Linked DNA regions of Homo sapiens. The protein of the gene in region 1 purifies or fractionates together with the protein of each later gene. This does not show direct contact. Each region holds a gene or a part of one and is shown on either strand. Other genes may lie near its edges.

Evidence for each region.
Region 2: the proteins of RAB12 (region 1) and SMARCAL1 fractionate together in Homo sapiens (co-fractionation; one large-scale study listed by BioGRID). This does not show direct contact.
Region 3: the proteins of RAB12 (region 1) and RILPL2 purify together in Homo sapiens (co-immunoprecipitation; one study listed by IntAct). This does not show direct contact.

What each region holds. Positions count from the first base shown.
Region 1 is NC_000018.10:8,607,455-8,613,040, reverse strand, and holds the start of RAB12 (ras-related protein Rab-12), read right to left. Parts: upstream 3,605-5,586; 5' UTR 3,602-3,604; coding exon 3,088-3,601; intron 1-3,087. UniProt on the Homo sapiens protein: The small GTPases Rab are key regulators of intracellular membrane trafficking, from the formation of transport vesicles to their fusion with membranes.
Region 2 is NC_000002.12:216,471,484-216,474,983, reverse strand, and holds part of SMARCAL1 (SWI/SNF-related matrix-associated actin-dependent regulator of chromatin subfamily A-like protein 1), read right to left. Parts: intron 1-3,500. UniProt on the Homo sapiens protein: ATP-dependent annealing helicase that binds selectively to fork DNA relative to ssDNA or dsDNA and catalyzes the rewinding of the stably unwound DNA. Rewinds single-stranded DNA bubbles that are stably bound by replication protein A (RPA).
Region 3 is NC_000012.12:123,414,539-123,417,111, forward strand, and holds the end of RILPL2 (RILP-like protein 2), read right to left. Parts: intron 1,384-2,573; coding exon 1,353-1,383; 3' UTR 501-1,352; downstream 1-500. UniProt on the Homo sapiens protein: Involved in cell shape and neuronal morphogenesis, positively regulating the establishment and maintenance of dendritic spines. Plays a role in cellular protein transport, including protein transport away from primary cilia.

The sequences.
Region 1 (5,586 bases):
ATCATCTCAAATCCCTAAGGACTTCCACTACGGATCTTTTATAGAAAGTTCAAGTGAATCCCATTTACTTTAAAAGGGCACTTACTGGTCAGGAGCAGTGGCTTACGCCTGTAATCTGAGCACTTTGGGAGGCCAAGTGCTTGAGACTAGGAGTTTGAGACCAGCCTGGACAACATAGCAAGACTTTGTCTCTACTAAAAATCAAAAAAGGGCTTGGTGGTGTGCACCTGCAGTCCCAGCTACTCAGGAGGCTGCGGCAGGAAGATTGTGTGAGCCTGGCAGGTCGAGGCTGCAGTGAGCCATGATCGTACCACTGCACTCCAGCCTGGGTGACAGAGCAAGACTCTGTCTCAAAAATAAATAAATAAATAAAAATAAAAAGGCTCTTAATGGAAACACTCTCCTAGCCTAGGAATTAGACAATACTACCACTCTAGTGACCCATCTTGGTCCAGGCACACTCAGGGACTCTTCCCTGGGCCATGCTGTGAGGCTCACGGTCTTTCCCAGACGGCTGTCGCGAGCAGCCCTGACAGGGTAGGGAGAAACTCCTACTGTGGAAGAGACTCTTGCTCTATATGGAATTCACTGCACTACATGAAGATGAAACTAGAAAAACCAGCCTGGGAAGAACCCCGGGAGCTAACTGCTCAAATGGTAAGCGTTCAGGTAAGGCAACCACAATTCTACACCACACCCAGTACCATATTTAATTTGCATTTTTCTAAAGGAACTAGAGGAACAAACTTATCTTCAAACATTCCAATGACGAGGAAGCCTTCTCTGACCAGGCCTCATCACTAGCCTCGACTGGAGGCGCTTTCACTGTGCTCCCAAATACCCATACACATCTGTCACTGCCCTGACAAGCGGTCACGCAGCTCCCAGAAGCTCCGATCCACTTCTGGACAGAGTCGATGTCCTGTTTACCACTGAATCCCCACTGGGTAGCATAACACCCAACACACAGTAGGTGCTCAACAAACGATCTGATGAGTGGAGGGGAAAAGCAACTCTGAAGCAGAAACTGAAGTGGAGCTGGCTGGCGTTCTCACAGTGTCTTCCCGCTCTGCAGCAGGCCAGGGGCCATGATCATTCTCTGAACATCCCACAGTTAGAAGCACGCACTGAGTACTAAAGTACTCCAGTACTCTAAGTATTATAGGCTACATGTGAAGCAAACAAAAATGAGCAAGACAGAAATTCAACCACACTCAGAGTAGGGAGTATGTGCTCGGGTAAGTGCATGTTTGTTAAGGGACACAGAAACAAACTGCTTGGTCTCCTTGCCTCCTGGTTTCTTCCTTATTCCCAAGCATCCTCCGCAGCTCTTCCTTATTCCCAAACATCCTATGCAACTCTGCCAAACTGTTTTCGTGCCAATGCCTTACTAAGGAGTCTTTTGGTTCCAGGTGCCCATAGGATCGGGTCCATTCTCCTTAGCATGGCGGTCAAGGTCTCGCAGCATCCATTCCCAAGTCCCCTAAGGAACCCTCCCCAGAGGTGGGGGGCTGCTCCACTGCTGCCAGGCTTAGAAAATCCTTCTTCCTCTCTCCTCTTCTGCATTCTAAAGCACACCTTTGCTCATCCATCTCACCCTCCATCCACTCAAGCCCTCAGTTACCCACCTATGGGTACCTGATTTCTCTTCATCACACAGTGCAACTCTATTATCTCTCATTTTTATATACTGAAGTACGGAGCCATAAAATATTGACAATTCTAAACGGAATTTAACCCTACTTTATTTATGTCAGGTACTAAAATAACAGCCTAACCCTCATTTGATGGTTTAACAACTCCCTGTACTCTGCATGATCCAAGACTGGATATTTGAAACAGGTATAGTTATGCTACTCATTTTAATATAATGTCTCCAACGACAACATTTTAAAAACATATGGTACAGACATCACAAATATTTCCAAAATGATCTATTCCAAAAAAGCATTAAGGGAAGTAAGTTCTTGAAAACAAACCAAGAAAGACAGTACAAAAATTGGAGGTTTCACTTTCCAATAAGACACTTTAAATGTAGTACTGTTTTGTTACATGACAATTTCAAATCAAGTCATCTCAAAATCGTACTGACAGCCTTGGAACTACCACTGGTTATAACACTATTAATAAATAGAATTACATGAAATTATGCTTTTAATTCTATCAAATCTCCTGACTACTCAGTTTCTTGGACCGCCCCTGGGGAAATCTCTCACTTCCTATCACGGAAGTGACTGCCCTTTATTTTAAAGAACGGGGTTCTCCTAGTTTGGACATCTTTTAAGGGGTTTTCCATAGAAACAACTGCTACCCACATCCAACTGAGAAATCTCAATGTCAAGTCCTCTAAGCATGACTTAATTAAAAAAATTTCCCCTGCAGTTTCCATTTCAGATCCACGGCTGTTTTCCTCCTTGACCCTGGAGCGTTCCTGTACTTACTTCACTCCTGTCCCTCACCGAAAACAGCGGTACTGGAGGAATCAACCCCATGCCCGCCAGTCACCGGGTTGTTTGAGGTCATGGATAAATACAGCTGAAGCTCCTCTGCCCCGTACGTACGGCTAGCACGAGAAACTTACTGTAGTTTTAGTTTTAACATTCTCCATAGGTGACTTTAAACTTCATTTCTTGAAAATGGGTTCAAAATAAGAAAACTGCCCTGGTTGCGCAGGGATCACACCCGCAGCAGACGGCGCGCGCTGGCCTTGGCGGGCCGGGCGAGAGCGGCCTTAGGCGTTCACTCCCCTGCCTGCCTGCGCTCCACTCGAACCCAGCTTTTTCTTGGGCGAGTATGCTAAGGGCCGAAGTTTCCGTGGAGAGCCGCCCCCACAGGCCCCGGGGGCTGCCAGGACCTCTGAGGCAGGGCCGGGGGCCAAGGGCAGGTCTGCCCGGAGGCGGCACGAAAACCTCTGCCAGGCTTTGGGATTGGGATGCAGGGCGCTCCAAGGAGACCCCCGCCCCTAGTTTCACCGAGAGGCCCATCCCCGAAAGACTCCCAGGCTCGATGAGACTCGAAGCCCACGGGGCGAAGGGCACCTGCCCGGGCGCCAGGAGGCCCGGCCCAGGGTCGCCGTGGCGCCCTTACCCACGGTGGACTTGCAGGCCTCGCAGAAGGTGTCGTCGGTGAAGCGCTCCATCAGGCTGGTCTTGCCCACGCCGCGGGAGCCGATAATGATGACCTGCAACTTGAAGTCGGCCGGCCTGGGGGGCTGCTTCCTCCGGCGGCCCTGGCCGCCCGACAGCGCCGGGGAGCCCGCGCCCAGACCGCCGCCGCCCCCGGCCCGCCTCTGCAGCGCGGCGCCCGGATCCATACACGCATGCGGCTCCCGCTCGGCCCGCCGCCCGCCGCCGCCCGCCCCCCGGCTGCGCGCCCCGGGCCCCGGCGCCCCCTCGGCCTCCGCCGCGCGCGGGGGGTCGGCCCCGGGCTCGGCTTCCGCCCGCTGGAGCGGCCCCGGCGGCCCGTGGGCTCCGCGCTGCAACTGCGCCGCCGGCCGGCTCTCTGCGCCCGGGTCCCCTCCTCCTCCTCCTCCGCCGCTGCCGCCGCCGCCGCCGGGAGAGGAGGAAGGGAAGCAGCTACTCCGCAGTAGCGGCAGCAGCATCCCGGACGAGGAGGGGCAGGAAGCGCAGGCGCGGGCGGGGCGGCTGGCCGCGAGGGGCCGGAGGCGGGCGGGTGGGCGCCCCCTGCCGGCGGGAGGACCGCGCGCCCGGGCCTCGGTTGGGTACTGCGCGCGGAGCTTTCCCGCAACCCGCGCCGCTCTTTCCCTGCCTCTGCTCGCCTGCCCGCCCCCGCTTCCCTCCCTCTTCCGCCGGCTCTTTCATCTTTTCTTCCTCTTATCTCTTCCCTTTTCCCCCTTTTCACTCCTCCCTACTCGGCTTTCACTCTGACCCGCATTTATAGTTAACACAAGAAACTTAGTGTGGTTTTAGTCTTAAAATTCTCCGTAGGCAATTTTGAACTTCAGCATTCCGGTGCATCATGAAAATGGGTTCAAAATAAGAAAAAGAACCCTGGTTGACAGTGAAAACACTCCCATGCGCACAGTCCCCAAACACCATGCACATGTTTTCGCCCCCGCGCGCTCGGTGTAGCTGGAACGCTGGAAAGGCCCCGACCTGAGGCCGCGCCGCCGGGCCGCCTGCGCTGCGTTCGCGTCTACACCAGCGCTCTCTCACAAACACCAGCGGGTGCAAGCCCCCGCACCCTCTACCGGGCCGTGGCACTGCTCGGTCTCTCTCCGTCACGTCTGTCTCCCATTTTGCACGGAAACGCGCGAAATCAGTTATTTTTAACTCTGATCGCTGTCTCACTCAGAGTTCAGAAGTTTTTATGCTGTTTAATTTTTAAATTAAGTAAATGGCATACTCCTTTGGGGGAATAAGCGAGTTAAAACTCAAACAGTGCGAGAAGATTGAAACTTTAGGAATTATGGACTCGGGTCGTATGTTTTGCCATTTCTGTTTGGAAGGATTTAAGGATACAGAAAATCACTGCTGATTCCTTGCCAGAGATTTGTTTAGCAAATTCCTCAGCTTGAACTTGAGCATCTCAGAACACAGGGTTCTGAATATGATAGGGGCTGGCAACATTTGCCGAATGATCACGTTACCCACAAAATTTCAGCTGTGCTGTATTTAGAACTAGGTTTAGTAATGCACAGTACACGCATATGTTACACAGCAAACCTGATTTGTAAAAATCTAGCGTTGCCCACAGTGTAGATTGGAAGTTTACATCTATGAGAGCATTCTTAACTGTGCAGTCACTGTAGGGATCTTTATAATATGAATTCTGAGAATATGTAAAATATGATCCCTCTATATTATTTGAAACACAGATCCATCACTTACCATCACGGAATTTACTTTCTTTCTTTCCTTCTTTCTTTCTTTTTCTTTCATTTTGTTTTGTTTTGATTTTGAGACAGCCTTGCTCTGTTGCGCAGGCTGGAGTGCAGTGGTGCGATCACAGCTCACGGCAGCCTGGAACTCCTGGGCCCAAGTGATTTTCCTTGCTTAGCCTCCTGAGCCGCTGAGACCACAGGCACGTGCCACCACGCCTGGCTAATTTAAAAATTTTTTGTACAGTTGGGGTTTTGGTTTGTTAACCAGGCTAGTCAACAGTGTGAGACCCTGAACTGGCCTCAAGTGATCCTCCCACCTCAGCCTTCCAAAGTGCTGTGATTACAGGCATGAGCCACTGTGCTCCGCCGCAGAACATTTCTTAGCTGTGGGTTTCTCTTCTGTTCTATGAGAATGAGAGTAGTGGCCCCTCCTTTCCTCTAGCATTGTTAGGAAAAAAGCAACTAACAATCTCTGCAGTCTGCTGCAACCATAAGGCACTATATAAATGTAAGGGATTAAAGAAACTGATTTATGCATGGCTTTTCAGGAATACTGTGATTTTACAAAGCAAGACGCATCTGCAAAGGTAATCTCAAGATTTTTAATTTGGTCCATTCTGATTAATAGCACCGCCTGTCTTAATAGGCAGATGCATGTGGCATGGCTTGTGGGGCTGAAGACCTTCTTGCCCAAAATAAAATATCTTCCCCATAAGGTAGATCTGTAGTTTCTGCCACTAGAA
Region 2 (3,500 bases), on another chromosome or scaffold:
ATACAATCCACTGATCTTCAGATTTCTTGTTTTACTGTATGTGTGTGTTCTACACAATTTTATCACCTGTGTAGGTTTTCATATATTCACCTCCAATGTTAAGATACTCAACAACTCCAACATTGCAAGGATCCTTTTACCTCCCTCCTCTTTCCACGGTCCTTAGCTCCTGATAGCCACTAATCTGACCTGAATTTCTAAAAACATTTTTTTTCTTTTTCTTTTTTAAGATGAAGTTTCACTCTTGTCACTCAGGCTGGAGTGCAGTGGCACGATCTTGGCTCACGGCAACCTCCGCCCCCTGGGGTTCAAGTGATTCTCCTGCCTCAGCCTCCCAACTAGGTGGGATTACAGGCGCACACCACCACATCTGGCTAATTTCTGTATTTTTAGTAGAGGCGTGGTTCCACTATGTTGGCCAGGCTGGTCTCAAACTCCTGATCTCAGGTGATCCGCCTGCCTCGGCCTCCCAAAGTGCTGGGATTACAGGCGTGAGCCACTGCACCTGGCCAATTTTTTTTTTTTTTTTCAAGAATGCACTATAGGCCAGGCACAGTGGCTCATGCCTGTAATCCCAACACTCTGGGAGGCCAAGGCAGGTAGATCACCTGAGGTCAGGAGTTTGAGACCAGCCTGGCCAACATGGCGGAACCCCGCCTCTACTAAAAATACAAAAATTAGCCAGATGTGCTGGTGTGCGCCTGTAATCCCAGCTACTCAGGAGGCCAAGGCAGGAGAATCACTTGAATCCGGGAGGCAGAGGTTGCAGTGAGCCAAGATGGCACCACTGCACTCCTGCCTGGGTGACAGAGCGAGACTCTGTCTCAAAAAAAAAAAAAAAAAAAAAAAAAAAAAGAATGCTATACAAATGTTATATAAATTGCACAGCATATAACCTTTTGGAATGGGCCTTTGCATTCAGCACTCTCTGGAGATTCATCCAAGTTGTTACCTGTATCAATAATTTTCTTCTTTTTATTGTTGAGAAATAGCCCACAGTATGGATATACCATAGTTTCACCATCCATCTGTTGAAGGACATCTGAGTTGATTCCAGTTTGGGGCTACTACAAATAAAGCTGCTATGAACATGTGTGTACAAGTTTTTCTGTTAACCTAAGTTTTCATTTCCCAAAGAAAAATGCTCAAAAGTCAATTGTTGTGTTGTATGGTAACTGCATGTTTAGTTTAGTTATTTTCTTTTAAATGGCATTTATTTATTCTTGCTAGTGATAAACATGATAAGGAAAATAAAAACATTTAGTAATCTAACCAATCTACTTTTTCCTGTCTCTTTTTTTGATGTGTATGGTATATATATCTTTTAAATAAAAAGTTTTATATCCTGTTTTCCCCCAATAAAACACATTATAAGTAAAACTGTATTGTTAAGTGTTCTAAAATATCATTTTTAATGGCCCTTTGTCATTATGCAGCAACAGCATAATTTAACCCTTCTATTTCTGCAGATTTAGGGGTCTCAAATTTTTCCTAAAAGGATATGTTGGTAAATGTCCATCAACAAGTGAACAGATGATGTACAATGGGATGTTATTTAGCACTAAAAGGGAGTGAACATCTGCAGGTCTAGATAACCAAAAAAGAAAAAAAAAAAAAAGGAAAACCAAGGAGTGAACACTAAAAAGGAACGAGACACACAACAACATGGATAAATCTCAAAAAAAAAAAGTACATCCTGAATGTCCTTTTCTCCACATTTATATTCCATTATATTCCATATTTATATAAAATTCTAAAAATCCGCAAACTAATCCTTAGTGACAGACCGTAGACCAGAGGTTGCTTGAGGATGGGAGGGTGAGGGAAGGGGCAGGAGGGCGTGATTACAAAGGAAAACTCTGGGGGTGGGGGCAGCGGGTGGCAGATATGTTTCCTATCTTGATTCTCATTAATTGTACACATTATGTGCAGTTTACTGCATGTCAATTATACCTCAAGAATGCTATTAAAATGGAAAGTTTTTAAGAGGATGCCAATTTTTGGTGATTTTCTTAGATTGGACTACAAACCAAAGTACGATAGCAAAAAGAAAAAACTTAATTTAAGGCTCCTGATATTATTGCCAAATTGCTTTCCAATAACTAATGTATTAGCATGTCCATCTTCGTACACTTTCATCAACAGTGAGCACCGCACATTTTTAAAACCTCTACTGACTTGATGGGGTAAAAAAAAAAATTTTATTTTTCACTAACTTGATTACTAGTGAAATTGGGTGTTTTCGTTATCTTTTAATTGGCTACTGGTGTCATTTCTTTGATGAACTATCTATTTATACAGGTTGCCCCCTTTTTTTTTTTCCTACTGGGAGTTAGGAAATACCTTTACATGTAAAAACCATTATTTGTATGTCACAGAGGTGGCTAATAGTTTCCCTAGCTTATTTCCTTCTATTACTTTTCTGTTGTTTTCTAAATTCTCCTTTATTTTTAAAAATGTAATTTTTCTTATTATAAAAATAATACACACTCATTGCAAAAATACAGAAAAACTAAAAAGATAATGATGACTACTTAGAGATAATCATCATTAATGTACTGGTATATATTAATCAGGCTTTTTTCTATGGATGACTATTTTATTTATTTTATTTTATTTATCTTATTTTTGAGATAGAGTCTTGTCTCTCACCCAGGCTGCAGTACAGTGGCAGGATCTCGGCTCACTGCAGCCGCTGCTTCCCAGGTTCAAGCAATTCTCGTGTCTCAGCCTCCTGACTAGCTGGGATTACAGGCATGCACCACTATGCCCAGCTAATTTTTGTATTCTTAGTAGAGATGGGGTTCCGCCATGTTGTCCAGGCTGATCTAGAATTCCTAACCTCGGGTGATCTGCCTGCCTCAGTCTCCCAAAGTGCTGGGATTACAGGCGTGAGCCACTGCGCCTGGACAACATGACAATTTTTAAAAATTATTATACATACAACAGCTTTTTGTCCATAGTATGGACATCTTCCGATAGCAATATATACTAACCAGATACCAAGACCTTCAATTTTGGAGTTTCTTCAGGTTCTTATAGGGTTCAATGATCTCCAAAGTTAGGAACCACTGATCAACATTATATTTTATGGCTGAATGGACTATAATTTATTTAATAGTATATCTGTTGATAAAAACTTAGATTTTTAATTATTGAATATTATAAACAGCATGACTAATATTCTCATTTATAAATCTGACTAGTCTGATGATTTCCTTAGGATAAATTCCTAGAAGTAAAATTTGAAAAATTGAGTGCACGCCTTAATTTACTGTCAAACTGCCCTCCAAAAATGTACAAATGTACAAGAGAATCATAGCCACTGTGGGCTGGGCATGGTGGCTCACGCCTGTAATCTTAGCACTTTGGGAGGCCAAGGTGGGTGGATCACCAGAGGCCAAGAGTTTGAGACCAGCCTGGCCAACACAGTGAAAGCTTGTCTCTAATAAAAATACAAACATTAGCTGGGCATGGTAGCAGGCACCTGTATTCCCAGC
Region 3 (2,573 bases), on another chromosome or scaffold:
GGCCAGCCCAGAAAGGGGCTCCCACAGTGCAGCGGTGGGCTGAAGGGCTCCTCAAGTGCCGCCAAAGTGGGAGCCCAGGCAGAGGAGGCGCCGAGAGCGAGCGAGGGCTGTGAGGACTGCCAGCACGCTGTCACCTCTCACCAGCACTTTGGGAGGCTGAGGCGGGTGGATCACGAGGTCAGGAGATCGAGACCATCCTGGCTAACACGGCGAAACCCTGTCTCTACTAAAAATACAAAAAAATTAGACGAGTGTGGTGGCAAGTGCCTGTAGTCCCAGCTACTCAGGAGGCTGAGGCAAGAGAATGGCGTGAACGTAGGCAGCAGAGCTTGTAGTGAGCCGAGATCGTGCCACTGCACTCCAGACTGTGCGACAGAGCGAGAGACTCCGTCTCAAAAAAAAAAAAAAAAAAAATCTATAAACTGGTGCACCGGTACCGGTCCCCATCTCCCCAGGTTATGAGGAACAAATGAGATAATCCACAGAGCAGGCGAAACACATTGAGTAAGCCACTGTTATTTACTAAGAAGACAGGCTCACGGAATGGTTGCGGCAGCCTCATTAGTTCCTTTGCGAAGTGCAGACACCCGCTCTCTGTTTCATTGATTCCTAAATGCATTTTGTTCACATCTTAACACCTCTGAAATCAGGATGAGTCCTAAAATCGATAGCTTCTTAACATTTTAGTTTGCAGCAATCTTTCCCTTCATAGTGACACCAGATAATCGTGCATCGCTTAGACTGAATGAATGCAATTGATTCATTATACAATGAAATGTAGATATATGACATATACACACATATACCATGTGTACCATCGTAACTAAGAGACCACTCTAGATAAGCTATAGAAAGTATAAAAATCATTTTACTTTAATACAAAATCACATAAAGAAAGGCATGTTGGCTAAATCAAATATTCACTAAATATCAGTGAAGTCACCACTGGAATCTCAATAGCACATTTTCCTGCTTTCTTTTCTCCCTTCTGCTAACCATTGAAGACCAGGGTCATCCGTGGGAGCAGATGAGTAGGACACGCGTCTGCACGCTGGAGGCCCTGGGGGTTGACATGGGAGCAGGAAGTGGACCCCCCCACCCTGCACATCCCTTCTGTTTTTCTTGATTTCAGTCTCACTGGCCCAGGCCAAATCTTCAAGGGTGTCTAGTTCTGCAGCCAGGGAGAAAGTGATGCCAAGAGAACCTCGTCTCCTCCCTCCTCAGTCTGCTTTGAAGGGGAAATAAATACACAGGCCTAGTGTGTCTGTGTGGCACAGGGAGGTGGTTTTGCCAGGCATCTTGGAAGGTTGTCTTCTAGAATCAGAGCCATAGCCTTACTTGTGGCCTTGGATCTAGGTCTGTTTCCCCGATCGAAAAAAGAACCTGGTGTGGAGAGAGAGAGGGTTCAGGGTAAGCAGAAGGAACAAAGCAAGGGGCACAGCAACCCCCGTAAAATTTCTAAGTAGCTCTTGCAGCTGTTGACTCAAAAATATGTCCAGGCCAGGCATTGTGGCTCACGCCTGTAATCCTATGATTTTGGGAAGCTGAGGCAAGAGGATGAGGATCACTTGATCCCAGGAGTCTCAGACATGCCTGGGCAGCATAGTGAGACCCCATCTCTAAAAAAAAAAAAAAATTAACCAGGCGTGGTGGCATACACCTGTAATCCCAGCTACTCAGGAAGCTGAGGCAGGAGAATCGCTTGAACCCGGGACGCAGAGGTTGCAGTGAGCCGAGATTGCGCCACTGCACTCCAGCCTGGGCGACAGAGCAAGACACTATCTCAAAAGAAAAAGAAAAAGCAAAAAAACCCCAAAAAACCCGGGTGCGGTGGCTCATGCCTGTAATCCCAGCACTTTGGGAGACGGAGGCAGGCAGATCATGAGGTCAGGAGATCGAGACCATCCTGGCTCACACGGTGAAACCCCGTCTCTACTAAAAATACAAAAAATTAGCCGGGTGTGGTGGCGGGCGCCTGTAGTCCCAGCTGCCTCGGGAGGCTGAGGCAGGAGAATGGCATAAACCCGGGAGGCGGAGCTTGCAGTGAGCCAAGATGGTGCCACTGCACTCCAGCCTGGGTGACAGATTGAGACTCCGTCTCAAAAACAAAAACAAAAAAACACATTCATTCGTTCATTCATTCACTCATTGATTCTAGTAGCTCATTAAGTTTATCTGACCCTGAAAGGGTGGCCTCACGCTCATTAGCCACTAGCCACATGTCCTCAGGCTAGCTCATGCACAGAACACACATTTCACTTTTGCTCTATTAGGCTCAAACTCCAATTAGGTGTCCTAAGCTCCCGTAGAAGGACGCTGAAAGAAACCAGTAGTTTATGCCTTCTGGAAGCCTGATTTGCAACAAGACAGCCAATGAAAGTCCTAAATGAACACCTTCACTTCGGACACCTGGGTGGAGGTGCTCTTTCATTATCTTACCTCAGAAGACCCTTCCTTGTGGAAGAAACACTTCCATTAGGCTGGGTGCAGTGGCTTACACCCGTAATCCTAGCACATTGGGAGGCTGAGGCGGGCGGATTGCTTGAGCTCAGGAGTTCCAGACCAGCCTGAGA